3 separate regions of the Homo sapiens genome follow, and regions 1 and 3 are each linked to region 2. Evidence: fine-mapped expression QTL. A gene starts in region 2. Each other region holds a variant in brackets. All regions are shown on one strand. Distances are between the middles of the regions.

Region 1 (10,434 bases), 20 kb before region 2:
TAGTAAAAGCACTGAAAAAAACCACTTGCAAGTATTTTGTTGATGGCCTCATAAATAGATGCTATAGTTCTTATCTCAAGGCTTTGAATTTTAATGTAATGTTTAGGTCCAAGTGTTAGGATTTCAAGCAGTCGGTGTTGAAATATTTAGCGTTACACCGCCCTCTTGTGCTTTCCACGGAGTTTACGGCTTGATGCATATCCCCTCACTGCCTTCCTCCCACCCAATCTTTCCTCTTCCACTTCAACAGTTGAGTTTGCCCGCTAGTTTTAAATTTAAATGGAGGTTTTAGAAGGCTCTTAGCCGATAATAGTGTCTTTGTCCACACTGGAATCCTGACTGCTTCCTCCCCTGCACTCAAGATTTTCTCCCCTTCATTGCTCTCTCTTAACAGCAAATTGCATAAAAGTGGTAAAAGGGACCCAAAAGCAGCCAGTTGCCGAGAGTCCAAATGTTTGAAAGGGAAACTCCAACATTTATCAAGCTGAGAAGTTGAGTGTGTTCCGGCAATCTATTTTTTTAATTATTCAATTATGAATTCCCAGTTATAAATAATTAATGGATGCTAGTAAGATCTCCTGAGAGGAACATTTGATACATGGCCAAACTGATGAAAGACCCAAATCAAAAATGTCCTTAAAATGACTTAAACAGGTAAAATTTTTAAAAGTCTAAGAAATTCCTTAAGGCAAAAAATAATATCAAAAGATGGGAAAAGACTTCCCCATCAAAGTAAAACCAAATAACCAATTATTGTAAAACCAATAATTGGGAAAATCAAGTTTTCTTTATCAAACTGTTATTTTGACCAATCTGTTTTATGAGCCAACTAATTTCAACCAGATTTCTTTCTTCCAAATCATTTGGCTAAATTGCTTTCAATTTGCATTCAGTCAAATCCTGTGCTACCCACACAGTCAATAAATATAAGGGATTTAGGCATCAAAATGAGATTTTTAACCTCTTTTACCCAGAAATGGTATGAATCCAATTTATACTCTTAAATATCCTGTTTGGTTTTTCAGTCTTCTCATAGCCATAGAATTTGCTTCTCACAAAAAGCTGGGAGATAAACGGGTCTGAATTATTATTCCTGTATTATGCCCAAGGAAATGGAGGTACAATGACATAAAAGGCTCTGCCTAAGGCCACAAAGCTAGTAAGTGGCAAAGCTAGGATGAGACCTCAGATCTCTCAGGCTCCTCTGCTGGGGCCAGTTCCACCACAACAGTGCCAAGAATGTAGACCCTGCTTTGCTCTTAGCAAAGGAGCCTAGAACAGGGTTTGGGAACATTCACATTCAGTTTCAAGGCACTAACCAGATGCTCTCAGATCCTGCTGTGGAAGCTGAGAGAAACAAGTGAGTTTTAAGAGTGCAGTTGACGTATCTATCTGTTAACATGCGTGCATACCTGCCTGCATGTATGTATGTGTGACCAAGTGCATTCAGCCTCTACAATATGAAGATATGGAAGATACAAAAAGGATTCCGATCAATATTATCAAGCGTGTAACATTCTCAAGTATTCTCTTGCTCTCCAAGTTGTCCAATATAGTCAAGGAAAGCTGATCCACATTTGTTCATTCACTCATGCAACATATTATTTAATGCCTTGGTGATTAGGTACTGTTCTAGGTGTTAGGGATGCAACGGTGAACAAAACAATGTTCCTGCTTTCATAGAATGTTCATTCTAGTAAGACAGTTGGCAAGTAATATAGCACAATATGCAAATGAGAGATAAATTTTGGTGGCTTCGACTATGGTGACCCTGACCAATACCCAGAGAAAGGAGAAATCAATGAAACTTTGAATAGATAGAAATGTGCTACTCTTACCTAGAGCGACAACCAACCAAGGTCATATTTTTTAGAGCATGTATATTACATTAGGGAGTAGTTGTGTCATTTCTGGGAATACTAGTTTTATAAGAAAAGCCTGAAACTGGATTCAAATTCTGATTGTTCCGTTTACAAATTGTGTGCTCTCAGATGAGTTATTTCATGGTTTTTACAGTTTCCCCAAAATAGTAGTGCCTATCTCATTTCTACTTAATAGAGCTATTATGACAGTTAGAAGATAAAACAGATAAGACATGGAAAGCGCTTAGCACAGGGATAGACACAAAGTAAGAAATTAATAAATATAACTGCCACGTCAGTTTGGATTACTTCTGTTGCAAGAGATTGCAATGAGAAAAGAATTTACCGGCCTGCATAATCATAGCAAACAAGGCCTTAGGACCCAATTTCTCTCTCTGTTGGTTGACTGCGCTTTACTTCTGCTCTGCCCTCACTCCTTGATAGATCTTCCCAAGGTGGCATGATGGCTTACATGAGATAATGGAGTTCAGGATGCCTACCCCAAAGACACATTACCCCAAAATATAGGAGCTTGGCATATTGAATATTTTTAAGCTGAAGTAATTTGAGAAACAGTAGGAGGAACTCTCTGACTTTCCCTTGCCCTTCTATCCTGAAGCAGGTTATAGACCTTCAGGTGAGAGGTACCTTACTCTATACCCGGAGGAAAGGAATATCCATATTCCTAAAGATGAAGGGACACCAAAAGAAATATGAATGAACAGGTCTTGCTAAATTTCCCCCAGTTTGTTACTTTTGTCCTATCACATTTTCCCACAACTTTCCTAACTTTCCATGACTTTTCAAACCTAGCATAAAAACACTCAGGTTTGGTCGGGAGCAGTGGCTCACTTCTATAATCCAGCACTTTGGGAGGCCGAGGTGGGTGGATCACTTGAGGTCAGGAGTTCAAGACCAGCCCAGTCAACATGGCAAAACCCCATCTCTACTAAAAATACAAAAAAAAAAAAAAAAATTAGCCGCGCATGGTGGCAGGTGCGTGTAATCCCAGCTACTCCAGGAGGCTGAGGCAGGAGAATCACTTGAACGTGGGAGGTGGAGGTTGCAGTGAGCTGAGACTGCACCGCTGCACTCCAGCCTGAGTGACAGAGCGAGACTCCGTCTTAAAATGACAAATCAAAAAACGCTCAGGTTTAACCACTTCTGATCTTCATTTCCTTGTGAAGACTCCCTTGTCACATAAAATTTACATTAAATAAATTTGTATGCTTTTCTCTTCTTAATCTGCCTTTTGTTACAGAGGCCCCAGCTGAGAACTTAGAAGGATAAAAAGAAATTTTTCCTCCCCTACAGTTTCTGGTGACCACAAAGGGACGGCTGGACACCTCACTCATTTCAGATCCTGCTGATGGGATCCAGGGAAACTGACAAAAGCCAGAAAAAGGTAAGCATTCTCCCAAAGTCAGCTTTCTCAGATCTCTGTTTGTAGCACCCAGTTAAGAGACAAAGGTAAAAATTTCTCCTTGTCACTTTTTCTTTTCCATATTCATATTTGCAGAAGAAAAACTTGCAAACATTAGTTCTTTGGATTATGATTCTTGCACATTTGGCTAACTTGGTTTTGAGGTACATCTTGTTTACTGATTCTTTCCATGCCAGAGACAGCTACTGCTTTCCTAGTTATCTCATTTTGCATCCTGAGAGCTTGGCTTGGCTTTCTGCCTGCCAGGGAAATGTGCAGACAGTCAACCATCAGGTTGTTGGCCCTGAGAATATGGCCTGATGGAAATGTAGGTTGCATCTCATTCTCCGCTAATGTCTTACTGACTGTTGCCAGCCCTCAAGAAGGGCCATCTAAGTCTGTCTTTCTTGTGGCTATCTTTGGGAGTGGTCTGGATCTTGAAAGGCTGCCTTTTTTGCACTCTCTTTGAAGATGACTCTTGCGTCCACGGTTAAGCTATAAAAGTCTTGTTGGTTGTAAGTCATAAAAGGCTTATTGGCTTTTGTTTTGAGTCACTTGAAATAGATACCTTTAGTTTCAAAAAAATTATTTTAAAAAGAAGTTCAGTATTGCCAGAGATATTTACTGTTTGTCCCAGCTAAAACTTGATAATAAGATATTTGAAAGAATTTTTTTTTTAAAGATCTATGGTCAGAAATTGGCCTAATTGGAAGCTGATATTCAGGGCCTAATGGAACCAATTTTGTTTAAGTCTTCTCTGTTTTCTCTGTTTAATCCTGCTCCTCCCATGGGAACTTCTCACTTAACTGAAATCCCCTTCTCAAGCCCCTGCTGACTAGATGTCCACCTCCTTCTTGTTGGCACAATTTTGCTGAGGATAATTTGGAACTCCATTGGCTCCTTGGGGAAACTTAAGATCTCCCAAAACTGGCCCCTCTGAAGTTTCTGCCTTCCCTTTGCTTCTGCTCCTCCTTCATCCTTTTGCCACTTTCAATCTTCCATTCAGTTTCCTGAATCCTTTGATATGTCCCCCTTCAAGCTCCTACCTCCTCCATTCTTCTGTCCATCTCTGCCAGACCTTTTTCCACCCCAGCCCCTCAGTCACTTGAACCTTCAGCTCCTCTGCTCTCAAGAGACTCGAGGGCCCCCAAAAGCAAGTATCTGAGGCTGAAAAGGAAAAAGCCTAATTGGAAATAGTCTATTTTATCCACTCAGATGTGCTTTGAAAATATCCAGATAGAGCCCAGTGTGGTGACACATACCTGAAATCCCAGCTACTTGGGAGGCTGAGGTGGAAGGATGGCTTGAGGTCAGGAGTTCAAGACCAGCTTGGGCAACATAGTAGCTTCCGTCTCTTGAAACACACACACACTCACACACACACATGCACACAGATAACTGCTAGATGTCTTCTAGTCACTTGCCTAGAATGTAGTTCACAGCCTGCATAAGATTACATGTCAGGGCAAATGAGAATTTAAACATATTTTTCCACAAATATTGGTTAAAAAATTCCTGGGGGTGGGGCCAAGAAGGCCAAGTAGAAGCAGTGGCGATCGGAGGTTCCCATTTAAAAGAACCATAATAGCGTGCAAATCCTGCACCAGCAACCGAGGTTCTCTCATTAGAACTGACTAGGTGGCTAGCATGACCCACAGAGAGGAAGGAA[G/A]AGCAGTGTGTTGCAGCAGCTCACCTTAGAGCCACACGGGCCGGGGGAGCACCCATCCCCCAGCCAAGGGAGGTGGTGAGCGAGTGTGCTACCCAGCGGGGAAACCGTGCTTTTTCCACGGAACTGTGCAACCCACGGATCGGAAGATCCCACTCATGAACCCATGCCACCGGGGCCTAGGGTCCCAACCATGGAGCCATGCAGATTCTCAACAGCCAGTAAGCTAAAATCTGCTTAAGCCTGCTGAGTTCCTGCGGGGAGGGGCAACCATCACCACAGCTGCGGCTGCCTACTGTCTAAGCCCTTTGAGCTCCTTGGGGGAGGGGCGGCAGCCAGCACTGGGACTGATAACTGCCTAACACGCTAAGCTCCCTGGGCAGGAGTAGGACGCAAGCCATCTCTATAGCTCCAGGCTGCGCTTCACACCGCCCCCACCCCCCCGCCCGGCCCCCGCTGGAGCCAGGGAGGCAGGATGGCTTGCTCCCAAGAGGCGTGCCCCACAACCCAACACACCAGCTGAGGCAGACTATAGCCAGACCGCCTTTTCAGGCCTGACCCTGACCCATCCCTCCTCACTGGGCGGGGCCTTCCTGCAGGAACTCCAGCAACTCCAGCCAGGATCTCAGGGACAGAACTCTGATCTCCCTAGGCTTAAGCCCCTATGGGGAGGATTGGCCACAGTCTCTGCAGACCAGCAGACTTAACCTTTCCTTCTGCTAGTTCTGAGGAATCCAGGCAGCCCAGGCAAGTGGGTTTCCCCCCAGGGAAGCACACTCCCTCCACCAAGGGACAAAGTGCTTCATTAAAAGGGTCCTGTTCCCCATGCCACCCAACTGGGTGAGACACTCCAATAAGGGTTGTCAGACACCCTATACAGGAGTGATCCTACTGGCATCAGGTTGATGCCTCTCGAGGTCAGTGATCCCAGAGGAAGGAGCAGGCACCCATCTTTGCTGTTCTCCAGCCTCACTGAGTGACATCTCCAGGCATGGGAGCGAACCAGATGAATAGGACCTGAAGTGAACCCCTAGCAAACTGCAGCACCCCTACAGAAGAGGGAACTGACCATTGAAAACAAACAAACAGAAAGCAACAACAGCATCAACAACACAAAAAAAAGTGCCCATGAAAACTCCATCCAAGGGTCAGCAGCCTCAAATATCAAAACTAGACAAACTCATGAAGACGAGAAAGAGTCAACGAAAAAACAGTGAAAACCCAAAAGGCCAGAGTGCCTCTTCTTCTCCAAATTGTTGCAACACCTCTCCAGCAAGGGTGCAGAACTGGACAGAGGATGAGATGGGTGAATTGATAGAAGTAGGCTTCAGAAGGTGGGTAATAACAAACTTTGCTGAGCTAAAGGAGCATGTTCTAACCCAATGCGAAGAAGCTAAGAACCTTGATAAAAGGTTAGAGGAGCTTCTAACTAGAATAACCAGTTTAGAGAGGAACACAAATGACCTGATGGAGCTGAAAAACACAGCATGAGAACTTCATGAAGCATACACAAGTATCAATAGCCAAATCAACCCAGTGGAAGAAAGGATATCAAAGTTTGAAGAACACCTTGCTGAAATAAGGCATGCAGACAAGATTAGAGAAATGAAAAGGAATGAACAAAGCCTCCGAGAAATATGGGACTATGTAAAAGGGCCGAACCTATGATTGATTGGAGTACCTGAAGGAGACGGGAGAATGCAAACAAGCTGGAAAACACACTTCAGGATATTATCCAGGAGAACTTCCCCAATCTAGCAAGACAGGCCAATATTCAAATTCAGGAAATACCGAGAACACCACTCAGATACTCCATGAGAAGATCAATCCCAAGACACATAATCAGCAGATTCTCCAAAATCGAAATGAAGGAAAAAATGTTAAGGGCAGCCAGAGAGAAAGGCCAGGTCACCTACAAAGGGAAGCCCATCAGAGTAACAGCAGATGTCTCAACAGAAACCCTACAAGCCAGAAGAGGGTTGGGGCCAATATTCAACATTCTTAAAGATAAGAATTTTCAACCCAGAATTTCATAGCCAGCCAAACTAAGCTTCATAACAAAGGAGAAACAAAATCCTTTCCAGACAAGCAAATGCAGGGGGATTTCATTACCACCAGTCTGCCTTTCAGGAGCTCCTGAAGGAAGCACTAAATATGGAAAGGAAAAACCAGTACCAACCACTGCAAAACACACCAAAATATAAAGACCAATGACACTATGAAGAAGCTACATCAACTAGTGTGCAAAATAACCAGATAGCATCATGATGACGGGATCAAATTCACACATAACAATACTAACCTTAAATGTAAATGGGCTAAATGACCCAATCAAAAGACACAGACTGGCAAATTTGATAATGAGTCAAGACCCTTTGGTGTGCTATATTCAGAAGACCCATCTCACTTGCAAAGACACACATAGGCTCAAAATAAAGGGATAGAGGAAAATTTACCAAGCAAATCCTAGTCTCTGGCAAAACAGACTATAAAACAACAAAGATCAAAAAAGACAAAGAAAGGCATTACATAGTGGTAAAGGGATCAATTCAACAAGAAGAGCTAACTATCCTAAATATATACCCACCTAATACAGGAGCACCCAGATTCATAAAGCAAGTTCTTAGAGACCTACAAAGAGACTTAGACTCCCACACAATAATAGTGGGAGACTTTAACACCCCACTGTCAATATTAGATCAATGAGACAGAAAATTAACAAGGATATTCAGGACTTTAACTCAGCTCTGAAACAAATGGACCTAATAGACATCGACAGAACTCTCCACCCCAAATCAACAGAATATACATTCTTCTCAGTGCTACTGGCACTTATTCTAAAATTGACCACATAATTGGAAGTAAAACACTCTGCAGCAAAAGCAAAAGAACTGAAACCATAACAGTCTCTCAGACCACAGTGCAATCAAATTAGAATTTAGGATTAAGAAACTCACTCAAAACCACACAATTACATGGAAAATGAACAATATGACTCCTGAGTAAATAATGAAATTAAGGCAGAAATTAAGAAGTTCTTTGAAACCAATGAGAACAAAGAGACAACATACCAGAATCTCTGGGACACAGCTAAAGCAGTGTTAAGAGGGAAATTTATAACTCTAAATGCCCACATCAGAGAGCTAGAAAGATCTCAAATCAACACCTCAACATCACAATTAAAAGAACTGGAGAAACAAGGGCAAACAAATCCAAAACCTGACAGAAGACAGGAAATAGCTAAGATCAGAGCAGAACTGAAGAAGATAGAAATGAAAAACCCTCCAAAAAAACAATGAATCCAGGTTTTCATTGGTTTTTTGAAAAAAATAACAAATTGGATAGACTGCTAGCTAGACTAATAAAGAAGAAAAGAGAGAAGAATCAAATGGATACAATAAAAAATTATAAAGGGGATATCACCACTGATCCCACAGAAATAGAGACTACCATCAGAGATTGCTATAAACACCCCTATGCGAATAAACTAGAAAATCTACAAGAAATGGATAACTTCCTGGACACATACACCCTCCCAAGACTGAACCATGATGAAGTCGAATCCCTGAATAGACCAATAACAAGTTCTGAAATTGAGGCAGTAATTGATAGTTTACCAACCAAGAAAAGCCCAGAACCAGAAGGATTCACAGCCTAATTCTACCAGAGGTACAAGGAGGAGCTGGTACCATTCCTTCTGAAACTATTCCAAATAATTGAAAAGGAGAGACTCCGCCCCAACTCATTTTATGAAGCCAGCATCATCCTGATACCTAAACCTGGCAGAGATACACACACAAAAAAAAAAAGAAAAGAAAAGAAAACTTCAGGCCAATATCTCTGATAAACATTGATACAAAAATCCTCAATAAAATACTGGCAAACTGAATCCAGCAGCACATCAAAAACCTTATCCACCACTATCAAGTCAGCTTCATCTCTGGGATGCAAGGCTGATTCAACATACATAAATCAATAAACATAATCCATCACATAAACAAAACCAGTGACAAAAGCCACATGATTATCTCAATAGATGCAGAAAAGGCCTTTGATAAAATTCAACATCCCTTCATGTTAAAAACTCTCAATAAACTAGGTACTGATGGAACATATCTCAAAATAATAAGAGCTACTTATGAGAAAACCACAGCCAGTATCATATTGAATGGTCAAAAGCTGGAAGCATTCCCTTTGAAAACCAGTAGAAGACAAGGATGCCTTCCCTCACCACTCCTTTTCAACATAGTATTGGAAGTTCTGGCCAGGGAAGTCAGGCAAGAGAAAGAAATAAAGCGTATTCAAATAGGAAGAGAGGAAGTAAAATTGTCTCTGTTTGCAGATGACAGGATTCTATATTTAGAAAACCCCATCATCTCAGCCCCAAAACTCTTAAGCTGATAAGCAACTTCGGCAAAGTCTCAGTCTCAAAATCCATGTGCAAAAATTACAAGCATTCCTATTCACCAACAATAGACAAGCAGAGAACCAAATCATGAATGAACTCCCATTCACAATTGCTACAAAGAAAATAAAATACCTAGGAATACAGCTAACAAGGGATGAGAAGGACCTCTTCAAGGAGAACTACAAACCACTGCTTAAGGAAATAAGAGAGGACACAAATGGAAAAACATTCCATCCTTATGGAAAGGAAGAATCAATATTGTGAAAATGGCCATACTGCCCAAAGTAATTTATAGATTCAATGCTATTCCCATCAAACCACCATTGACATTCTTCACAGAATTAGAGAAAACTAAAGTTCATATGGAACCAAAGAAGAGCCCATATAGCCAAGACAATCCTAAGTAAAAAGAATGAAGCTGGAGGCATCATGCTACCTGACTTCAAACTATGCTACAAGTCTACAGTAACCAAAACAGCAGGTACTGGTACCAAAACAGACGTATAGACTAATGGAACAGAACAGAGACCTCAGAAACAACACCACACATCTACAACCATCTGATCTTCAACAAACCTGACGAAAACAAGCAACAGGGAAAGGATTTCCTGTTCAATAAATGGTCCTGGGAAAACTGGCTAGCCATATGCAGAAAACTGAAACCGGACCCCTTCCTTACACCTTATACAAAACTTAACTTGCTATGGATTAAAGACTCACATGTAAAACACAAAACCATAAAAACCCTAGAAAAAAACCTAGGCAATACCATTCAGCACATAGGCATAGGCAAAGACTTCATGACGAAAATGCCAAAAGCAATTGCAACAAAAGCCAAAATTGACAAATGGGATCTAATTAAACTAAAGAGCTTATGCACAGCAAAAGAAACTATCATCAAAGTGGACTGGTAACTTACAGAATGGGAGAAAATTTTTGCAATCTACCTATCTGACGAAGGTCTGATATCCAGAATCTACAAGAAACTTAAACAAATTTACAAGAAACAAACAACCCCATCAAAAAGTGGGTAAAGGATATGAACAGACACTTCTCAAAAGAAAACATTTATGTG
Region 2 (10,434 bases):
AGGAATAGCAATCTCATAGCAGGAATTCAGGGGAATAAAGCCCCTAACCCCATACTCCTCCTCTGCTTCAATTTCCTACTGGTGACTCTTATCACCAAGGTAGGTGATAGGTCAAGGAGGACAAGGTAGACTGGGTGATGCAGGCCTTAGAGGTCAGCTGTGGAGTCACAGAAAAGGATACAGAGAGTGGAAAGTGGATCTGGAGGGGCAAATGAAAAATGTGCCTGTAATCCCAGTACTTGGGAGGCTGACACAGATAATTACTCGAGCTCAGGAGTTCAAGACCAGCCTGGGCAACATGACAAAACCCTGTTTCTGGAGAAAAAAAAAAAAAAGATGCGTGTCTGTAGTCTCAGCCACACGGGAGGCTGTGGGAGCTTGAACCCGGGAGGCAGAGGTTGCAATGAGCTGAGATCATGCCACTGCCCTACAGCCTGGGCGACAGAGCAAGATCATATCTCACAAAAGAAAGAAAAAAGAAAAATGCCCAACATACCAGTGTTTCCCAAACTTTACTCCTTCAGATACTATTTTCATGAGTTTACCATATCCTATGTTTACAATACACTCAGCTGTACTTAATATTTTATGAAAACGTCCTCTTTTTTTTTAAACTTTGTTAAATGTACTACTAGTAACAGGTACTAATAAATGTATTAATGGTAATTAAGGTAATATTTCACTACCTTGAATAGAAGAAAACCATAAAAAATAAATCTAATAAAATCAAGTTTGCTAAATTTTAAAACCTAAAATTTAACAATAATTATAAATGATAATGTATCTTATGATGTCCTTCACAGGCTGGTCCCTACCTGCCTCTCTAGTCTCCCCTCCCCTGCCCTGCCCCTGCCCCATGCTTCCATCTCTCCATTTCAAGCATATTGGTTTTTGGCCCTTCAAAACCAGCCATACTTCTACCTACCACAGTGCTTTTACATAGGTTATTCCTTTGGTATATATCAGTAAGAGGACATACCCATGAGTGCTAGGGAACCTGAAGAATTTAACAAATACAGTGCTATCAGCTAAAAACAAGAAGAATTATGCTTTCCTGAAAACATTCTAGAATTACACAGGTATTACTCATGATTTTGTCATTGATCTGGATATCCAGGTTCTTGTCCTGGCACCAAAGTTGAATCCCAAGATCTTAGATGATATATTTAATAAACGTGTGACTCAGTTTCTCCATCTATAAAAACAATTAGCTATCAAGAACACGATAGATACACTAAATCAACTACCTAAACTGTTGAATGCAATTCATGGTTGTATTTGTTATGTGAGAGCAGAAAATTACAATACTTTCTTTCAGACACCTACCTTTACCAAATCCAACCTCTTATGTGCCCAACCAGATATCTTAGTCATGCTACAGTTATTTAAAGCTCTCATTTGTTAAAAAAAAAAAAAAATTATCTAGCATTCATATTTACAAATAAATGAGATAAATGGGGAACAAGTATAGCCACTTTAGATGCTATTTAACATCCGTTCTGTTTTCTTTCTATAATAGTGACCTCTACTTTCCTTGGGGACCTTACTTCCTCCCCTACTCCCAGACATGTGGGAAGAGATAGCCCCACCCGGCTTCATTCCCAGAGCCACAGTGACAATCATAAGGTTTAATCAGAACTAAGGAGATACAGCTGGGGACTTCTGCTTACAGTTATGCTCTTTCTACTGGACTTGAATCTAGGGGGATGTACTTGATAGCTTCAATCATCCATTCTCCTCATTTATCTACCTTATTGTATGCCCTGAAGAAAACTGGTCTGCACAATATAAGTTCCCTCTAGCTTCTGGTTGAATTTAGACAATGAAGAGTATGAGCAAGAGCACAGCCTTTGGGTCATCTTGCAGGGTCTGAGAGTAAGGCCGACGTGAAGGGAAATAGAGCCATGGTTGGCAGAGGGACTGGGTCCTGGCCCCATTGGCTGACTGGCTGATTCTGGTCATGCCAAGACTATTATATACACTGATTCTTTAGTTGCATGAGCCAGGACATTTCCTTTTTTTTTTTCCTCAAAACATTTTGAGTTTGGGGCTTCAAACACGTGAAACAGAGTCTTAATGAAGGTATAACTAAAAATATAGCTCTGAAGTGAAGATGCATGGATCCCTGATCCTGAGGACTCTAAATCTGACCTAAATACAGTTCCAGTCTCCCTAAGGCCCCATCCTACAGCAGATCCTGTTTTGAGATTTCTCTGAGATTCTGTCTCTCTTATACATGATTTATAGCCTTACAATATTACAATATTCACCATCTTTACTCGCCATGAGTCAGTTTGTTCCTTGGAGCAAAGCGAATGTAATGAAACAGTTCCCATCTTACAGATAGGGAAATGGAGGCCAAGATATATGAAGAGACTTCATCAAAGGCAAACCTGAACGTGGCAGGCAGGTCTCTGGCCAAGGATCTTTCCATGCCAGCTCCGTTTCTTTATGTCCCCTTTCCCTCCTTCCCTATGCTTTCCCCTTCCCCTTTGCCCTGAATTTTTGTGGTCCGGTTGCTCTAGGAGCCTAGGTCTTGTCACATTATCTCAGCACTTGGATGACATGGTTCCAGCTGTCAGAGAAGGAAAGGCATGGACTTGTTTTTCTCTGAGTTTCCTTCTATTTCTGTATGCTCATTTGGCCTTCAGCATGTGCCACCCTGTGAAAGTTTGGGGGATGTTTTATAATGTTGCTTAACTTTATTTAGCTTCCCAAGTATTTATGACTTGCCTTCAAGATGAGAGTGAATTTAGCTGGTGTCCCTGATTCACCTTGGAAAAATCTATTGTGCCTAGCACAGTATCTGGCTTGCATTAGATAATCAGTAAATATCCATTGACAAGATTGACTAAAAGAATCTTACATTAGGCAAAATGCTGGCTAAGCTGCTGTAACAAAATTACAGTGGCTCCAACATGACAGAAGTTGATTTTTCTCTCACTCCCCAGAGGTGTGCCGGCAGTCCAGGGTGGGCAGGCGGCTCTGTTCTATGAAGTCATCCAAGGGCTCCTTGCCCTGCTATCCTCTAGAGAGTGTCTTTCTCCTCATGGTCAGAGCTGGTTTACCAGTACATTCACATTCTGGCCTAAGCAAAGGGGGAAAGGGAAAGTGAAGGGAAAGGGAAAGTGAAAGGAAAGAAGGTAACTTCCTTATAAAGATGTGATTCAAATGTGCACATATTACCTCTGCTTGCTTCTCGTTGGCTAAATCACTGTCACGTGCTCGTGCTAGCTTGCAAGTGTGTTGTGGGAAGTCAGGGACCCCGAATGGAGGGACTGCCTGGAGCTCCGGCAGAGGAACATAAATTGTGAAGATTTCATGGACACTTATCGGTTCCCAAATAATACTTTTATAATTTCTTATGCCTGTCTTTACTTTAATCTCTTAATCCTGTTATCTTCGTAAGCTGAGGATATACGTCACCTCAGGACCACTATGATAACTGTATTAACTGTACAAATTGATTGTAAAACGTGTGTTTGAACAATATGAAATCAGTGCACCTTGAAAAAGAACAGAATAACAGCAATTTTTAGGGGACAAGGGAAGACAACCAAAAGGTCTGATTGCCTGCAGGGTCATTATATTATATATATATATATATATATATATATATATATATATATATATATACACACACACACACACATCTTATATATATATACACATTTTATATATATATATACACATTTTATATATATACACACATTATATATACACACACATTATATATATACACATTATATATACACATTATATATACACACATTATATATATACACATTTTATATATATATACACATTATATATATATATAAAACATTATATGTGTGTGTGTGTGTGTGTATATATATGTCCAAGAGTAATGAAAACATGTTACTGCAGAAAGACTGGTCCAATAATGTTCATAGGAGCCTTATTCATAATTAGCCAAAAGGTAGAAACAAACCAAATGTCCATCAACAGGAGAATATTTAAACATGTTGTGGGATATTCATACTGGAATACTGGAAGGCTACTCAGCAATAAAAAGGAATGAATTCCTGATACATGAAACAACCAGGGCTGATTTACTCATTTGGCACAGTAGGCACAGTTCTGGGGCCTGTGAAAATAAACTTTTAGGTGGAAGAAAATGTTTTAGGTGAAAGAAATTGTCATATTCATCTTTATAGCAACATAGTCATAAGACATAATTTTTGATTATATAAATAGTTTGTCATATTCATCTTTATAGCAACATAGTCATAAGACATAATTTTTGATTATATAGTGTGTGTACATAAAATGAAGGGGCTCATGAAGTGCTTAGGGCCCATAGAAATCATAATGCAGGCCTACAAACAAGAATAAATACTAAAATATGTGTTAAGCCAAAAACCTGGGACACAAAAGAGTACATGCTGTACTCTTAAATAGAATTCTACAACAGGCAAAACTAATCTATGTTGATAGTGACCAGAAAGTGATTACCTCTGGAGTGGGGAGAGATTGCAAGAAGGGAATGAAGGCACTTTCAGGGATGGCAGACATGCTCTATATCTTGTTTTTGGTGGTGGTTATTTAGGTGTATATACAATCTCCTAAAATCATGGAACAGAACCTTTAGGTTCTGTACATTTTATTGTATATTAATTATGCCACAATTTTAAACAAAGGGGAAGAATAGACAGGGTACAATGAATAATTTCTGTGACAGATTTGATAAATGAATTACTAGGACAGTGTTTGCTGACAAGGTTTAACATTGCATTCTTGTAGAAAACCTTTAGGAACTCAAAGGGAAGAGTCCAGGCACTGTGACAGGCCAGTGGGGAATGAACCACACTGCTCTATATTAATCAAGCTTTTTTATTGCAAACAACAGAATATATCTGGTAAGCTTATACAGCACAGGAATTTATCAGAAGAATAACAGGAAGTACTGTATTCACAACAGTCTCTGAAAACAGGCAGGAATTTAAGACAAGATCAGACCATCAGATGGCTGGTGGATCATATGATGCCATAATCCTATACCCTTGCCCCAACCAACCCACATATATCTCAGGCCTTCACTGCATCTTTTCATTACTCCTCCAAAACTGAAAACCTATGCGTGAGCCTCTGGCTTGCTGAGCCTAGGCAAAGCCTACATATAATAACTCCCATGGAGATGGAAGAGGCAATGTGTTTCATTGGCTTCTAGATGGGAGGTGGGGCCCCCAAATGACCAATGTTCCCAACAAAACCTGAACAATCTGAAATTATTCAGATTTCTGCTTGTCATTCTAACCTCTGTTCAGGACTTCCAAGATCCAGGACAGGCCCAGTGTAGATACCTGTGTCCCAAACCACTGATCTGGGCTAGGAAGACTGAATCACAGGTGTGGAAGGTCACCCGGGTTCAACCATCTAGGTGATGAATTAGGCCAGGACCTGGGCAGGTAGACCATTTATTCTGGGGAGATATGATGCGAGCTTGAATTACATGGGAGAAATATTTGTAAGGCAGATGGGATAACAGGACTTGATAAGTCTGTAGTGTGGAAAGGCTAGAAAAGAAAGGAATCAAAGGAATCCTGATTTCTGACTTGACAGGGTAGAAGGAGGTGTGTGTGTGTGTGCGTGTGTGTGTGTATGTTTATGTAGGGACAGTGACACCCAAGAGAGGCTAGGAATAGGTTTGTTTTATTCCTGTTTGGGGTGGTTGGGTAGGCAGGGTTAAGTTTTTGACTTGGTGAATTTGAGATGATGGCCAATATACAATTGACATTCCAGCTGGGGGGACCATTGAAGATCAAGTCTGGCAAGTCTACTAGCTGGCGCCTGGGTGAGCTGAGCCCAGCAGGTGAGGGAAAACGCGGGAAGAGGGTCTTGCAGATTCCAAACTTAGGAAGGGTCGCGGCTCCGCGCACGTGCTCTCGGGGTCACCTTCCCCGCGCCTGTGAGGGTGCCAGGAGTTCGTCTCCAGGTCCCGCCCCTGTGGGCGGGGCGAGGCAGCGTCGCCGCGAGGCCACCCGGAAGACCAAGCCGGGTAGGCGCTGTCTCCGTCGCCTCCAACCCCCCCGGTCCGACCAGGGAAGGTGGGATGCTCTGATGGCCGGGCCTGCGGCGCTGAGCGCGGCGGCGGCGGCTGCTCTGGCGGCCGCCCTGCTCCTGCTGCGTCGTGAGGACCCGGGGCCGGGGGCTGGCCCCAGGTAACCCCTCCGCGTATGGGACCGAGCTGGGCCAGGTCTCCTGGCCGGGCCGGGGATACCGTGGGGTATGCCCAGTGATGCCAGCAGCTTGTGGCACCTGGGCGCACCCTCCAGCTCGGGCCCCTTCCGATGGGTCTGCTGGCTCAGGTGCGGGCGATGGCCGGGGAGCCGCGCCCCGCACGTGACTCAGCACTTTCCCCAGAGCCCGGACTGCGGAGAACAATATCCTCCTCCCTAACAGATAAACAGCCCTTGTTCCTCGGGATAAGGACTGGCAGTCCCCTGACACCCTAAGACCGGCATCTGTCGATGTTATTTCCCCAGCATGGCCGAAACAGAAGCCCTGTCGAAGCTTCGGGAAGACTTCAGGATGCAGAATAAATCCGTCTTTATTTTGGGCGCCAGCGGAGAAACCGGCAGAGTGCTCTTAAAGGAAATCCTGGAGCAGGGCCTGTTTTCCAAAGTCACGCTCATTGGCCGGAGGAAGCTCACCTTCGACGAGGAAGCTTATAAAAATGTGGTGGGTATTTCAGCTGGGACTCAAATGGACCCCCAGGATTCTGCGAGGTGAACATATTTCATGCCTAAAGGCTGAATACTGCCCTGCCAGTGGTGGGGGTAGTGAGAGGCCATCAAAACTTGGCCAAGATTGGTCTGTGAGAGTCCCTCCCAGAAGTCTGACTCCTGGATTGTAGCCCAGGTGTGCCTCCCTCCCGCTCATTGTGTGGTCTTGGGCAAAGCCCTTCTCTCCATCTGCAACCCTATAAAGCTGGGTCTGGGTTGTAATGGGGGTGGGGGCTGGTGAGACAGAAGAGCACTGTTTTCAGGGTCATACAAGCTGTATTCTAGAGGCAGCCCTGGTGACCTTGAGAATTTTCTCAGCCACTTTGCTGATTTTGTCAACCTGCGCACTTCACACTAATATTGTCAGGGATTCTGAAACTGCTTTGCAGAGTGAGATAGGTCTATGGCAGTGAAAGGTGGGATTATTCACTTACAAGAATTTGCCCTGCCTGACTTCCCAGGCTTGTGTCTGTAAATCGGATATTCCCTTCACTCTAAGTTAAAGGTTTTTTTTTTTTTTTTTCTGAGACGGAGTCTCACTCTGTCCCCCAGGCTGGAGTGCAGTGGCACGATCTCGGCTCAGTGCAACCTCTGCCTTTCAGGTTCAAGCGATTCTTCTGCCTCAGCCTCCCGAGTAACTGGAACTACAGGCGTGCGTCACCACTCCTGGCTAACTTTTGTATTTTTAGTAGAGACGAGACAAGGTTTCACCATGTTGGCCAGGCTGGTCTCGAACTCTTGACCTCAGATGATGCTCCCGCTTCAGCCTCCCAAAGTGCTGCGATTACAGGCGTGAGCCACCGCGCCCAGCCTAAGTTACACTTTTATGATTATAGGAATGATATACCAGACTTCTGTCTTGTCATGACCCCCTAAATATCAGAAGCCTGAGTTTCTTGGAGATTCTGTTCTTTATTTAAAGGGAATTATCTGTGAACTGCAACAAATTAACATAGTGTGATCTCAAGACACCACAGCTACAGAATTTGGCCCCACAGGTTTCATAGAAAGAACATTTCAAATAACAAGCCATCTTGCAAATAAATGTTCTTGATTCTCGCAGGTCTGTGTTCAGGTCATGGTGTGAATGCCTTTGGTCCATCAAGTCTTGTTTATTTAAAACAGACATCTTTCCTCAGGCTGAGGCAGATGTGTTCTCACCGGTTTCATGGGCTGTGTCAGATATTCATGGTAATTAGAAGCTGAAACTGAAGGCTGGGCGTGGTGGCTCATGCCTGTAATCCCAGAGCTTTGGGAGTCCGAGGCAGGGGATCTCTTGAGGTCAAGAGTTCCAGACCAGCCTGGCCAACATGGTGAAACCCTGTCTCTACTAAAAATACAGAAATTAGCTGGGCGTGGTGGTGCACGCCTGTAATCTCAGCTACTCAGGAGGCGGAGGTGCGAGAATCACTTGAACCCAGGAGATGGAGGTTGCAGTGAGCAGAAATTGTGCCACTGCACTCCAGCCTGGGTGACAGAGCGAGACTCTGTCTCAAAAAAAAAAAAAAAAAAAGAAAAGAAACAAATTGAAATCTGTGTTTTGAGTGTCGAGTTTTGGTGGCACATCTGTTTGACTAGGTACTTTGTGAAACCCTATTTTTCTTTTTCTTTTCTTTTCTTTTCTTTTTTTTTTTTTTTTTTTTGAGATGGAGTCTCACTCTGTCGCCCAGTCTGGAGTGCAGTGGTGCGATCTCAGCTCACTGCAAGCTCCGCTTCCTGGGTTCACGCCATTCTCCTGCCTCAGCCTCCCGAGTAGCTGCAACTACAGGTGCCTACCACCACAACCGGCTAATTTTTTTTTTGCATTTTTAGTAGAGACGGGGTTTCACCATGTTAGCCAGGATGGTCTCGATCTCCTGACCTCGTGATCCACCCACCTCAGCCTCCCAAAGTGCTGGGATTAACAGTGAAACCCTATTTTTCTTTAGTGTCATAGGCAGTGCCAGAAAAATTCTTTTCAGAGTTGACAGTAAGGATGGAAACCAACATTTTATCGGAGTTCTTGGATGATAGGAATTTATCATGCTTTCTTTTTTAAGTTATACAGCAAACTGATAAGGTTAGATGGAGGTTCGTAAACTTCTGTGTGCATGAGAATTAAGGTGGGTGCTTGTTAAAAGTGCAGATTCTGATTCAGAACTATTGGTGTGGGATGTAGGAATATGCCTTTTTATTAAGCACTCCCTGACTAATTATAATGCAAATGGTTCATGGATTGGACTGAAGGAAAGATTATCACCCCCATTTTACAGCTGAAAAAAAAAAGCTGTAGTGTATGATGAATAATTTGCCCGTAACTACATGCCTAGTGAGTGTAGCAAGCCCAAGATTTGCAGCTAGGTCTTCTTTAAGATGCCAAACGCCATCTCTTGCCCTCACATCATACCTCAGTGGTCTCCTTCCTGGTTAGCTACACACAGGTCTTTTATTTTTCCAGAGAGAGATTATAATCGAACCTGACTTCAGAAATCTGGATCACCCCTAGTCCAGTTATATAGACTGTGGACATATGTGTGTGTTGTTGATTTTCAACTGAGGTTCATTGCTTTTTGGTTGGAGAAAAGGAATTTGTAAAATTTGATGTTAAGTGGACAGGCCTGTCAGTAATGTTCTGTAACTTAGTCTTTAAATCTAGAGGGGGTTTTTGGTCTGTTGTTTAAATAACATGAAACTACATACAACTGTGTCCTTGCCTAGAATCAAGAAGTGGTGGACTTTGAAAAGTTGGATGACTACGCCTCTGCCTTTCAAGGTCATGATGTTGGATTCTGTTGCCTGGGTACCACCAGAGGGAAAGCTGGGGCGGTAAGGAAGGCATATGCTCTTTTCCCTTTTTGCTGGCCAGTAATATCAAGGATTCTTTTCTTGCTCACTCTTTTTCTTTGTGCCTGTTGCAATGCTTAAATGTGAATAAGCCTTTATTGTTTAAGATTCTATATGCTGCACTAACCTTTGGTATCCTTTTAATAGTACTGATAAGTTCGTCTTTCAAAGTAATCCTTGAGTTCAGGCCCCAGTGCTGGAGACGTCGTAAATATTTACATGATTTTGCCTATTGTGATTATCGCTATCACTACATCCCCTGACTAAGGGAAACCATGATGTCTGAGTAAAACTAATTGGTTTATGCTGTTAACAATCAGCTGTTTTTCCCCTTAATAAATGTTTGAAATTTGAAATGTTCTGTCTCACTTGAGTGATTTGCTTCAACTTATTTTCATGTCAAGCTTTAAACTTCTGGAATAGAACATCAGAACACAGGCACGATTCAACCAGCCTCCAGCGATGACTCAGCCTTCAGCGATGATTCAACCCCACTAATGATTCAGTCTTTACTGACGCAAAAGTCTTTTAACGCACATTTTATTTTCTTTTTAATGGTGTTCTAAATTGAGTCAGCTCCTGTACAGAAGTCATAGTTTACTACATAGTTAGAAATCAGAGTTTACTACCTGGATTCTGGGCAAATGTTAGTGCGGGTACATCTTATTTAATTTATACTTTGACTATAGTTTATTCCTCTGGCAGAATTTACATGCTGGAGCTGAAAAAACCTGCATGTTCTGCATATGTATCCCAGAACTTAAAGTAAAATTTAAAAATATTTAATAATAAATACATAAATAAAACAGAAGAAAGTGAAAAAAGTAAATAAATAAATAAAGCCGAGGCACAGTGGTTCATGCCT
Region 3 (10,434 bases), 84 kb before region 2:
ATTCAGAACAGGAGTGCATTCAGAAGCATCCTCTGGTGAGGCTGGGAAGCTGTTCACATCCCCGGAAAATTCAGTGGGAGAAAAAGTTTATGGAAGCGAGTAGGAGTTTATTCAACAGTGTCTGAGGCCTTTCAGAGCCATGAGTGAGTGTCTATAAAGGGGCAGTCAAGCATAGGCTGGGAATTATCTCTGTTGGGTGCCTACCTGTGACAGGCCCTCAAGAGCTGCTAAGAGGCTCATTCAGGGCCCAAGGGACAATGGCCAGTGGGGACAAACAATTCGGAGGAGTCTATCATTCTGGTGGTGTTATCTTTAGCACTGAATAAAACCGGAGTTCCCCCTTTCTGCCTCCTAGTCAGCACTATTTTTAGGAGCCAGTGGTACTTTTCAACTCTCTTTCACTATTTTTCAACAGGTTCACAAGGGCACGAAGTGCAGTATATAAAAAGAGGATAATGACTTGACTTCAGTGCAGGAAAAGGCCCAATGAACAGAGCAGCCAAGCTTGCCGGGACTAGAATAGATGAAAGTTTGGAGAAGAGTCGAGAAGAAATGGCATTGTCTGCATGGAGAAACTCCCCATTTTACATACAGTACTTCTGAGATGCTAAAGTAGACTTTCTGAAGTTCAAAGTTTAAAGAAGAAAGACTCAACTTTGAACGGTTCTGAGTGAGAAGCTGGAATAATGGTAGGCAGCCTTCTGAACTATTCACAGTTGTCTAGTGTGTGCCTTCACTACATGGACACTGATGCATTAGCTTTCTCTACAGGGCTGGCTTCATGGGAGTGTAATCTGTGCAGTCACACAGGACCTCATCCCTAAAGAGGTCCTCCTGCACAAGGTCTAACACTCTGCATAGCCATCTTGAAATTCTTAATAATTTTTGAACAAGATATCCCACATTCTCAGTTTGCATCGGGCCCAGCAAATTATGCAGCCAGTCCTGGTTTAGAAAGACAAAGAGCTGTCACTTTATACAGTCCCAGACACCAGGTCTTTGCTGTGTCAGAATTGTATGAGGAGTTAAGAATATAATTTACATTGTATAAACCTTCAAACTGCACAGATACATCTGTTTTTGTTTATTTGTTTTGTTTGCATTTTCATTTCATGTCTTGTTCCTGTTACAGGGAGAGAAGGGCCACATTTTTTGTTTTTATTGTTTAATGCATGCTATTTTAAGATTTCTCAAGAAGACAGCAGTCCCTGTCCAAAACTGTGTCTGTGTTCTGTGGTTAATTCTATTCTCCACATTCTACATGGAATTCCTGATTCAGGATTCCCTTATGTGATTCCATGACCAGAGAGGCTCAGGAGGAAATGAATCCCTTATTGAAGTCAAGGGAGAACTGGATTCATCTTGGGGAGATTTTTTCCTTCATCTGCTGGGTAAGGAGAAAAACAAAAGAAAGGTCAGCTTTCCTGTTTCTCAGAGAACAGAGATCATAATGTCTGCTGTTTCGTAAACCCACTCACAGTCCCCATGTTAGTGACAACCAGAAGACGACATTCTTGAAAGTAGAACAGAAATTCAACTTAGCACTGTGGGGCAGTGTCTCCTCCACGAACTGGGATTGGAAATGTCTCATATTAAACCCAGAGTGGGACCAAGAACACACCGTAGATGATGGCTTGCTTTAAATAAAAATTATGTCTTAATGACACTTTACCTAACTGACTTTGGAAAGTAATTCCCTGTCCAAGGATTGAAGAGATACATCATGCCAAGCTGTATGATACGTAAACTTTCCATCCTTTTAAGTTTTCCTAATTCTAAGAAGAAATTATGATTAACAGTAATAATGACCACAAACATAGTAAACATACTAGGATAATGATCACAAATAGAGCTTGAAATCCTGATTCCTGCATTTCTAACTGTGACCATGGGCAATTTCCTAACTTCACTGGTCTGTAGTTCCTTCATCTCAAAAACAATGGAGGTACTAAGGCCCAAGGTTTTTGTGGCACTCAGGGTTGGCTAACGTATGCCTTAGATGGCCAAGCACTCTTCTACGTGAAAGCGGATAACGTTGTTAAAGGCAGCTCTCAGCTTTCCACACTGGTATTTGAACACAGAGCCCTTCCCACTTCTTACCCCTCCCTCCCATCTTCTCTTCCAGCTTTGGCCTCTCAGACTTGCTGTGGCTTGGGAGCATATCTGGGGCCCACAGCTGGAATGTCCGGGCTGCTTCCAAGAGCTGGACCCTCAGTCTCAGGCGGGTTCTGGAGGACCCACTCCCAACCCTAACACCCAGTCACCTTCGTGGGGTGATCGTCCCAATGGCCATCACTCCCTCACCACTGGAGTGTTACCTCACAGATGGAGGACCTAGCCTGTGGGAAAGAAGAGACCATGACTTATCGGAACATATGGTTTCTTAATTCAAGTTAAAATGTCTGAACCCTGTTGCATCTGGTGCCATTTTAGTTTGTTAAAAATGCCACACAAGACTGTGACTAAAGGGGAAGAAATGGAGAAAAATACAGTTATTACACACTCAAGAGCCGGGTTTTGCGGCTCATTACCCAGTGGCCTCCGTGACTAATTAGGTTTTGTCACTGTTGCCGGGTCATTATGCCTTAATTTTTTTGCATAGTTATTCAGCCGTCACTTGAGGAAAAATGAAGTAGAGAAATACCCTTCTCTGTCTCCCCTGCTCTGAATCATTCAGGCTAAAAAAACTCTCCAGGCAGAGAGTACCCGAAACTGATGAAATGATCATTTTGCCACAATGGGACAAAGAAGTGTTAGTGGATTAAAGAGGTGCTTCTTTATCTGATGGCAAAGACCTCATTGAGCTGCAGAGGGCACAATTCAGTGGGGGAGATCATTAACTTTGAAGTCAGTCATCCAAAGATAATGTTTGTCCCTTTGCTTCCTTTGTTGTCCAACTGGCCTTAGCAACCTCTATTTTTTTACTCATCCTTGAAAAACTGGGGAAAAATGCATAATAAAATAAGGCCCTTGGGTCTCCTACAGGCCGGAGGCCTAGGTTAATTTTTGCTAGCTGCAAAGGAAATTGAAGACACCATAGTATTAGCACAGTGGGGCTTGTGTTGGGTCCGGGATAGTAAAAGGACCCATGGTGAGAGGGGAGACATTGGTGTCAATCATGGGGTGGGACACCACAATGGCCGGTAATTGGCGTGGGTCCACCTTCTACGTCCGTCCTGCTGAGCCTGCAGCCCCCAGCCCACTCTTGAGCCCCATCGCTAACAAGTAAACAATTTATCAGGGTTAGGTCTCCTGCGGGTTGCCCCATCACACGCTCCATTCGGCCCTAGCACCCCCACAACCCCCGTGCCAGCCCCACCACACACACAAAAATTGACGTACACCGTGCAATTTGGGGCAGACGCACCATGTAACAACACATTTACAACGGGCCTACCATGAAAATGGCTGTGTCAATATAGCTGCAAACTGGGGTAGCAGAGCAGCTGTGTCGGCCCAGAACTGGTGGGCCCCAGAGGGTGTCAGGAGGAGAGGGTCACAGGCATTGGATCATATCAGAGCTGATTATGACCCCTGCATCTTTGACACAAGAACTCACACAAATGTTCACTAGAATCAATCAAATGTCTTATAAGTAGCCTAGCCGTTTTAATGTCATTCTCTGGATTTGTTTATTCTGAACTTTGTTATTGAATGAGTTGTGGCTCTTCAGGAACCAGAGTGTTCCTAAATAAGGGGCTTGCTGGAGACCCTGCTCTGGAGAGTGAAAATCCTGTGGTGAGGATTTTGACAGAATTGTCCATTTTCTAGAAAATAGGGCACTAGACTTTTGGCTCTGGAAGATCTGTTGGAGACACCAGCTGTGACTCTTTCACAAGCTGCGTGATCTTGCTGAAGTTCCTCAGTTCCTCACTTGATAGACACGTTTTGCAGATCGAATGAACTTGTTGGAATTATATATAAAGAGGAAAGTAACTTATTAAATATCTCTTATGTGCCATGCTTTATTTCATTTAATCCTACAACAACAACAAGGAAGGGAATGTTGTCGTCTATCTTTTATAGATCAGGAAAATAAGGCTTCAAAAAGGAAAAGGAATCGGAGATACCTGAAATGGAAGTTAGAACCAAGTCTGTCTACTGACTTGTTTGCTCTGTTGTCCCAAAGTTGGTTCTGTTTCCATGCAATTTTGCCAGGAACAAAATACTCTTAGATAATTTTAAATACACAGTCTCATATTCAGATTGATAAGACATAATTCGGTCTTTTGGAAGACATTTCTTTAAAGGGTTGGAATGGGAAGGAAAATTTCTATGAGATGCGCAGAGCTTTATAACTATGAGGCTTTTTTATTAATTTCTCGGTTTCTAACATTCTGTTATTGCCTTTCACTGTAAGATTTTTATCCAAGACACCCTCCATTATTAGACATGCCTTTATTTTATGTGCTACTGATTTCAGAGTGCTATTAATTTTAGGATTATCCCTACTTGAGAGGTGTTACGATGTAGAAAGTTGTATATTTTAGAATCCAATATGTGTACCTGGATCTCAGCATCATAGGGCTGCTGTATTTTTCCGTGTTCTTGGAAAAAGCAA[T/C]GGCTTTGTTTGCTGTTTAACAGTTGAAAGTGTGGCTGATGCTGGTTTCCCGTGCGGATGGGGTCTGTGTGTGGGGTGGCTTGCTGAGCTCAGAGTGCAGGAAGGAAGACTCCCCCCAGCCAGGAGTCTCAGCACCATTGTCCTCCCTTGAAGCTGAGACAAAGGAGCAATTTTATGCTAATCAGTGTACATGAAATAAGCTTTTTAAATTTTTTTCTTTTTACAAATTCTACTTCTTTCACTTGGAGACATGATACATGAGGGGAGTCTATACAGCCACATTCCTCAGCTGAGGCACACAGCCAGCGGGGCTGACATCAGGAAAGTACGCAGCAGTGGAGAACTGGACAGAGCCTGTCAGACCTGCCCATCTCTTCAACATGAAGCCCTGCACATTTGTGGGCAGTGTTGGCGTGGGCTGTGTTTGAGGACGTGAAACTAATGTATTTCGGGGAGAGAAAAACTTTCTCTCTACCCTCTGAAGGTTTGAGAATTGAGTCTGTGAAATAAACTGAAAGTAGACAGATTAACAGGAAAAAAAAAATCATTTTAATTACATGCATAACCATGGGAGTCCCACAAAATATGAGACTCAAAGAAGGGTCAGATGATTGAAGTTTCTGTAGCATCCTGAGTTACAGAAAGAAATAGAGGCTTTGAGTTTGTGGGTTCGGGGAGTGGCAGACAGCACAAGTTATGGGAAAGTGAGGGGAGGAATTGTACAGTGAATAAAGGTTGTCTTGTCATGCAGCTGAAGTCTCTCTCAGGTAATATATCTCCCAGCAGCCCTTTTCCTGATACAGATACTCCAATAATGTAGATTTCTGTTCTAGATGTAAATTTCCTTTACAGAAGGACAGCTTTTTAGAGCTACTCCTGTGTGTGCAGTTTCTTAGAATGACCAGCTGAAAATGTATGAAAAAATTTCTAAATCAAACTACATTTGGGCTTTAGAAGCCTCTGTACAAGTCCGTGTAACTAACTGCAACCTAACTTAGCAAATAAACCAACAGAAAACCTAACTTAGGAATTTGCCTTTGTAACAACAACTGAGTCTCAGCCAATTATAGCAGCCGAATTTCAGCCTGTGGCAGGTGGCCAACTGTTCAAACTAGATTCAGTTAAGGCAAATGCAGGGATTTAACCAACTGACTGTCTCTATACCTCATTTTTGCTTTCTGTATGTCATTTCATTTCCTCTGACTGTAAATATAACCTGCACATGTGGTGGGATGAAGCATTCTGAACCATTTTTCTATTTGTTTTAGAGATGGGGGTCTTGCCATGTTGCCCAGGCTGGAATGCAGTTGCTATTCACAGCCACAATCATAGCGCACTGCACCCTTGAACTCCTGGGCTCAAGTGATCCTCCCACCTCAGTCTCCTGAGTAGCTGGGACTACAGGTCCACACCACCATACCTGGCTTCTGAACCATTTTTGATGTAAAATATTGCCCAATTCTAGAATTGCAGATAGAAGCCAATTAACATCTGCAAAACTAGTGTGAAAAGAAAAACTTTAAACAAATTAAATTTAACAGAGTTTAATTGAGCAAAGAATTCTTGAATGAGCAGCCCCCCCAAACCAGAATAGGTTCAGAGCAACTCTGGTGTGGCTGTGTGGTTGGAGAAGATTTATGTATGGGAAAAGGAAAGTGACATAAAGAAAACAGAAGTGAGGTATAGAAATAGCCAGATTGGTTGCAGCTCAATCTTTGCCTTATTTAAACATGGTTTAAACAGTTGGCTGCAGTTCTGCTGCAGAGTGAGTGGCAAGGTTGATCTTTCTCTGAGGTCGTTTCCAGAAGACCCAATCTCTGCGTTCTAGATCATGATGGTCCTCAGTTGGTGGATCATGGAAAAGCTTTCTTTACCTTGTGACAATACACTTTGGCATAATGCATTAAAGCTTGCAGCATTTAGTCGTATGGGAGTTTAGGAGCAGGAGATACATGAGGTTCTATTATTAGGGGCATAAGCCTACCAGTGACTATTTATAGAAGATTAACTTTTAGTTTGCACTGGAAGTAGATCTGATTGTCATCAGTCTGCAATACCTTTGACCAAGGCAATCCTGTCGATTCAATTAGCTTTACCTAATGCCATTGTATCTATAATATCATATTTAACTGTTCTGTAATTCGTCCAGTGAAACAAGTACTTTTATTGTTAGAGATTTTTCCAGGAGTGTCCTATGAGGGAATCACACTTTCTAATAATCTTTTAGCTATTGTTATAGCATCAGCCTTCTTCCATGGGAAAGCTTCTATATTGATATTTAAAAGGATATAAATCCTCTTAAATTGATATTTAAATATCCTCTTAAATATCAATTTTGTTTCTCCAATTCAGGTGCTTAACTGTTTATTAAATGGGTTATCATAGGTAATTTAACTTGGATATGGAATTCACTCAAATTGTCTATCTTAACAATTTCAGTACTGGCTGATTTAGCATGAAAGTCTGGCAAAGTATTTCCTTGGTATATAACTAATTCTTGTTCTGCTTGGGTTAGCAGTTTTATAAACCAGCCAGTCTCTTTATTAGAATTCCAGGAATTCTTACCCAGTCCAAACGATATTATCCTAAAGTTATCAAAAATTTCTATTCAGCAGTGCTTCTCAGGGTCCTTTCCATACTTTCCATGAACTTCCTTGAAGACACAACACTCTAGGATTTTACTTGCTTGCAAAGAACTTCCAGGAAATGCATCAGAATTCAGCAATTAACTGTGGAAAGGACTTAGAATGGTCATGGTTAAAGACACAGTTGACAAGAAAATTTGGTTATTTCTGTGGCCTATAATAATTTAACATAATAACCATAGTTATGATGGGTAACATATAAAGACCTACTAGAATTTTAGGAATCTCATGCAATTTTGAAAGATATATTAATAACATATTCATAAAAATGTAACTTGAAGAAGGTTAACCATTATTTGTTATTTGACAAGGTTTCCCATATAATTTAACATATCTAATAAGCCTATTTATTATCTCTTTTAGATGCTGCAGGGGCCCTCCATAACATCCCAAAGTTAGTTTGAGGTGAAAAGCCTTAATTCTGATTTTGAAATTTGATTTTTGGAAGCCTGTCAAATATATCAAAAGTTTAAAACACTTAATCAAAACAGAGGCCAGGTGTGGTGGCTCATGCCTGTAATCCCAGCACTTTGGGAGGCCGAAGCAGGTGGATCACTTGAGGTCAGGAGTTGGAGACCAGCCTGACCAACATTGTGAAACCTTGTCTCTACTAAAAATACAAAAGTTAGCTGGACATGGTGGTGCACACCTATAGTCCCAGCTACTCAGGAGGCTGAGGCAGGAGAATTACTTGAGCCCAGGATGTGGAGATTGTAGTGAGCTGAGATTGCACCACTGTACTCGAGCCTGGGTGATGGGAGTGAAACCCTGCCTCAAAAAAAAAAAAAAAAAAAAAAAAAGAATCACAAGTCACTGTAAAATAAAAGTCATTCACTTAGCCAAACAGATAATCAACTATTTTTTTTTAAAAAGCAAAAACCTTTATTCTTTGATAAAGAGGAGACTATTTTCCAAAAAAATCAAAAGACCTAATAAAAACGGTATGAGATAGAATCTGTCTCCCTCTCCCCACCTTTTTTTGTAGTTTATGCAAATTTGAATGAAAGTATTTTACTGTCTCTTCTTAATACTACATAAAGTTTTTTAAAAGTAAAAACCAAATTTTACTTTTGTATTAATGTATTATTAATATTAAGCTAATTTTAATAAATTTATAAATATATCATCCAATCTCAGTCAGCTTTTAACCACATAAGATCTTCATAAACCTTTTATAATTTCTTACAAGATTTTTCTTTTTTCTTTTTTAAGCTTTTTATATTTTAGTTTTATTTATATATTTTTTATTTTTGAAATTAAAAATTACCTTTAAATAACTTTTAAACTAGACAAAATTATTTTTTTAACAAACACACATTTTTATTCCTTTACAACTTTCCTCACCAAAAACATATTTTGCTTTTTATATACTTTGTGTACAGAATTTTAAAGTATCTAGTAGTTTGAATTACATATATTAACTACAATTTTAACTCTAGTAACCCAAATTTCTAGTGAAAACCTAGGATTTAAGTTTTAATTGTTTTATATTATTATTTATAGATAAAAACCATATTACATATTTTTAAAAAGATATACTTTCTCAATTTTTTTATTAACAGATCTAAATATATTTAGCTTTTGTATACCACATAAAAATAAAATGCCAAAGTATATAAACTTAAACGTATGTTTAATAATTAATGTTTCAGCTGGGCACAGTGGCTCACGCCTGTAATCCCACACTTTGGGAGGCAGAGGCGGGTGGATCATTTGAGGTGAGGAGTTTGAGACCAGCCTGATCAACATGGTGAAACCCCGTCTCTACTAAATACAAAAAAAGTTAGCCAGGCGTGGTGGTGCATGCCTGTAATCTCAGCTACTCTGAAAGCTGAGGCAGGAGAATCACTTGAACCTGGGAGACAAAGGTTGTAGAGAGCCAGGATTGAGCCACTACACTCCAGCTTGGGCAACAGAGTGAAACTCTGTCTCAAAAAGTAATATAATAATAATAATTAATGTTTCAGTATTTTAACTTAGAAATGACTCAAACACTATATTATTTTTACTTAATTTATTAAATTATTAACATGACTGTAAGATTTTAAATTACTGAAGAGTTTTGAAACTGTGACATAGATAAACTCCCTAATGTCTTTCCCAGTTTTCCTGGGTCCCAAGTAACCACATGGCACCCAGAAGAGCTATGAAAGGCAGGACCCTTCTATGTCCCAGATATAGAGTTCAGGACAGAGAACACAGTGGTGAAGAGTTGCTTGGAGGATCCAACCAATCCCAAAATGGCCAGGAGGCAAAGTTGGACCAGGGAGGATAGGGCCATGTGGGGCGTGGCTCTGCCTTGCAGCTGGTGATTGAACTGTTGAGACTATGTCCCTAGGCCTCAGCATGGTCACCTGTCCAGACCTCAAAAATCTAGAGGCTCAAACCTAAGACAGGCTCACAGCAAGATGTGTGCAAGGCTTTAGGAGAGTCTAGCAGCCAACTCTTACAGCTTTAGCTCACAGACAAGTCAAACAAGTGTGACAAATATTACAGAAGTATCAGTTTTATGACCTTAAAACATGTAGCTAAGACAGAATAAACCTGTCTGACCAGTAGACTCAGGTAAAAATGTCTCAATTATGTTTAACTGACAATTTTGAAGCCTTTTATATTTTAGTTTGCTAACAATTCGAAAACTAGCTTCATTTACCAAGGATTATCACATACATATAACATACATAGATGTGTAGATATACAGACACACCAACAATGATTTTTGAATGGATTTTTTAAAGTACAGTGTTGTTCATTTGGAAAATTCCACTATAATTTTAAATTAGCTTTAGTAAGATTTTGCCATTTTATAAGCATTTGCTACTTTCAGGGCCTAATACTTATATGTGTATAGGTAGATGTAGCCAAAAGATGGAGTACTCAGTTTTTCAGAAACTAAAAATCCCATTTTCACATTGAATCTTGCCTTTGGCTCTTGGATCCCCTTTTGATCAACTTAGTGATTTTTTTCCCTACCTAAAGCAAGCAAGAAAAGGAAACAAAGGGGATAGAACACAAACATGTCTGCAAATTTTTGAAAGCTGAAGTCCACACCTCCTGCAGTACTGACATTTGCTGCCAGTTTCTGTCTATAACCCAGTCAGACATCTAAACCCTCTATCTGGATCTAGACCAGTTAATTATCAGATTCGATCAAATCCTGGACCCAGTCCAGTTTCAGTTGTGACTTCTGAACCAAGTTTGGATAAAAAATTTGCTCAAACAAACTTG

What was found. PIP is the estimated chance that this variant, and not a neighbour inherited with it, causes the effect.
Region 1: its variant is fine-mapped to the expression of HTATIP2 in esophagus muscle (GTEx, PIP 0.96).
Region 3: its variant is fine-mapped to the expression of HTATIP2 in whole blood (TOPMed, PIP above 0.99).

What each region holds. Positions count from the first base shown.
Region 1 is chr11:20,337,577-20,348,010 of GRCh38, forward strand. No RefSeq gene overlaps it. Among named protein-coding and RNA genes, the nearest start is that of HTATIP2, 21 kb to the right of the region's middle. RefSeq lists an enhancer at 5,051-5,578. The variant G/A (reference allele first, on the strand shown) is at 4,955.
Region 2 is chr11:20,357,731-20,368,164 of GRCh38, forward strand. It overlaps HTATIP2 (HIV-1 Tat interactive protein 2), which reads left to right and starts at 5,984. Exons shown (of 5, transcript NM_001098522.2): 1 at 5,984-6,702; 2 at 9,444-9,551. The coding sequence starts at 6,508. RefSeq lists enhancers at 3,003-3,222, 9,517-10,434, 9,965-10,109, silencers at 5,985-6,404, 6,191-6,333 and a cis regulatory region at 10,032-10,042.
Region 3 is chr11:20,273,970-20,284,403 of GRCh38, forward strand. No RefSeq gene overlaps it. Among named protein-coding and RNA genes, the nearest start is that of HTATIP2, 85 kb to the right of the region's middle. RefSeq lists an enhancer at 4,579-4,748. The variant T/C (reference allele first, on the strand shown) is at 4,562.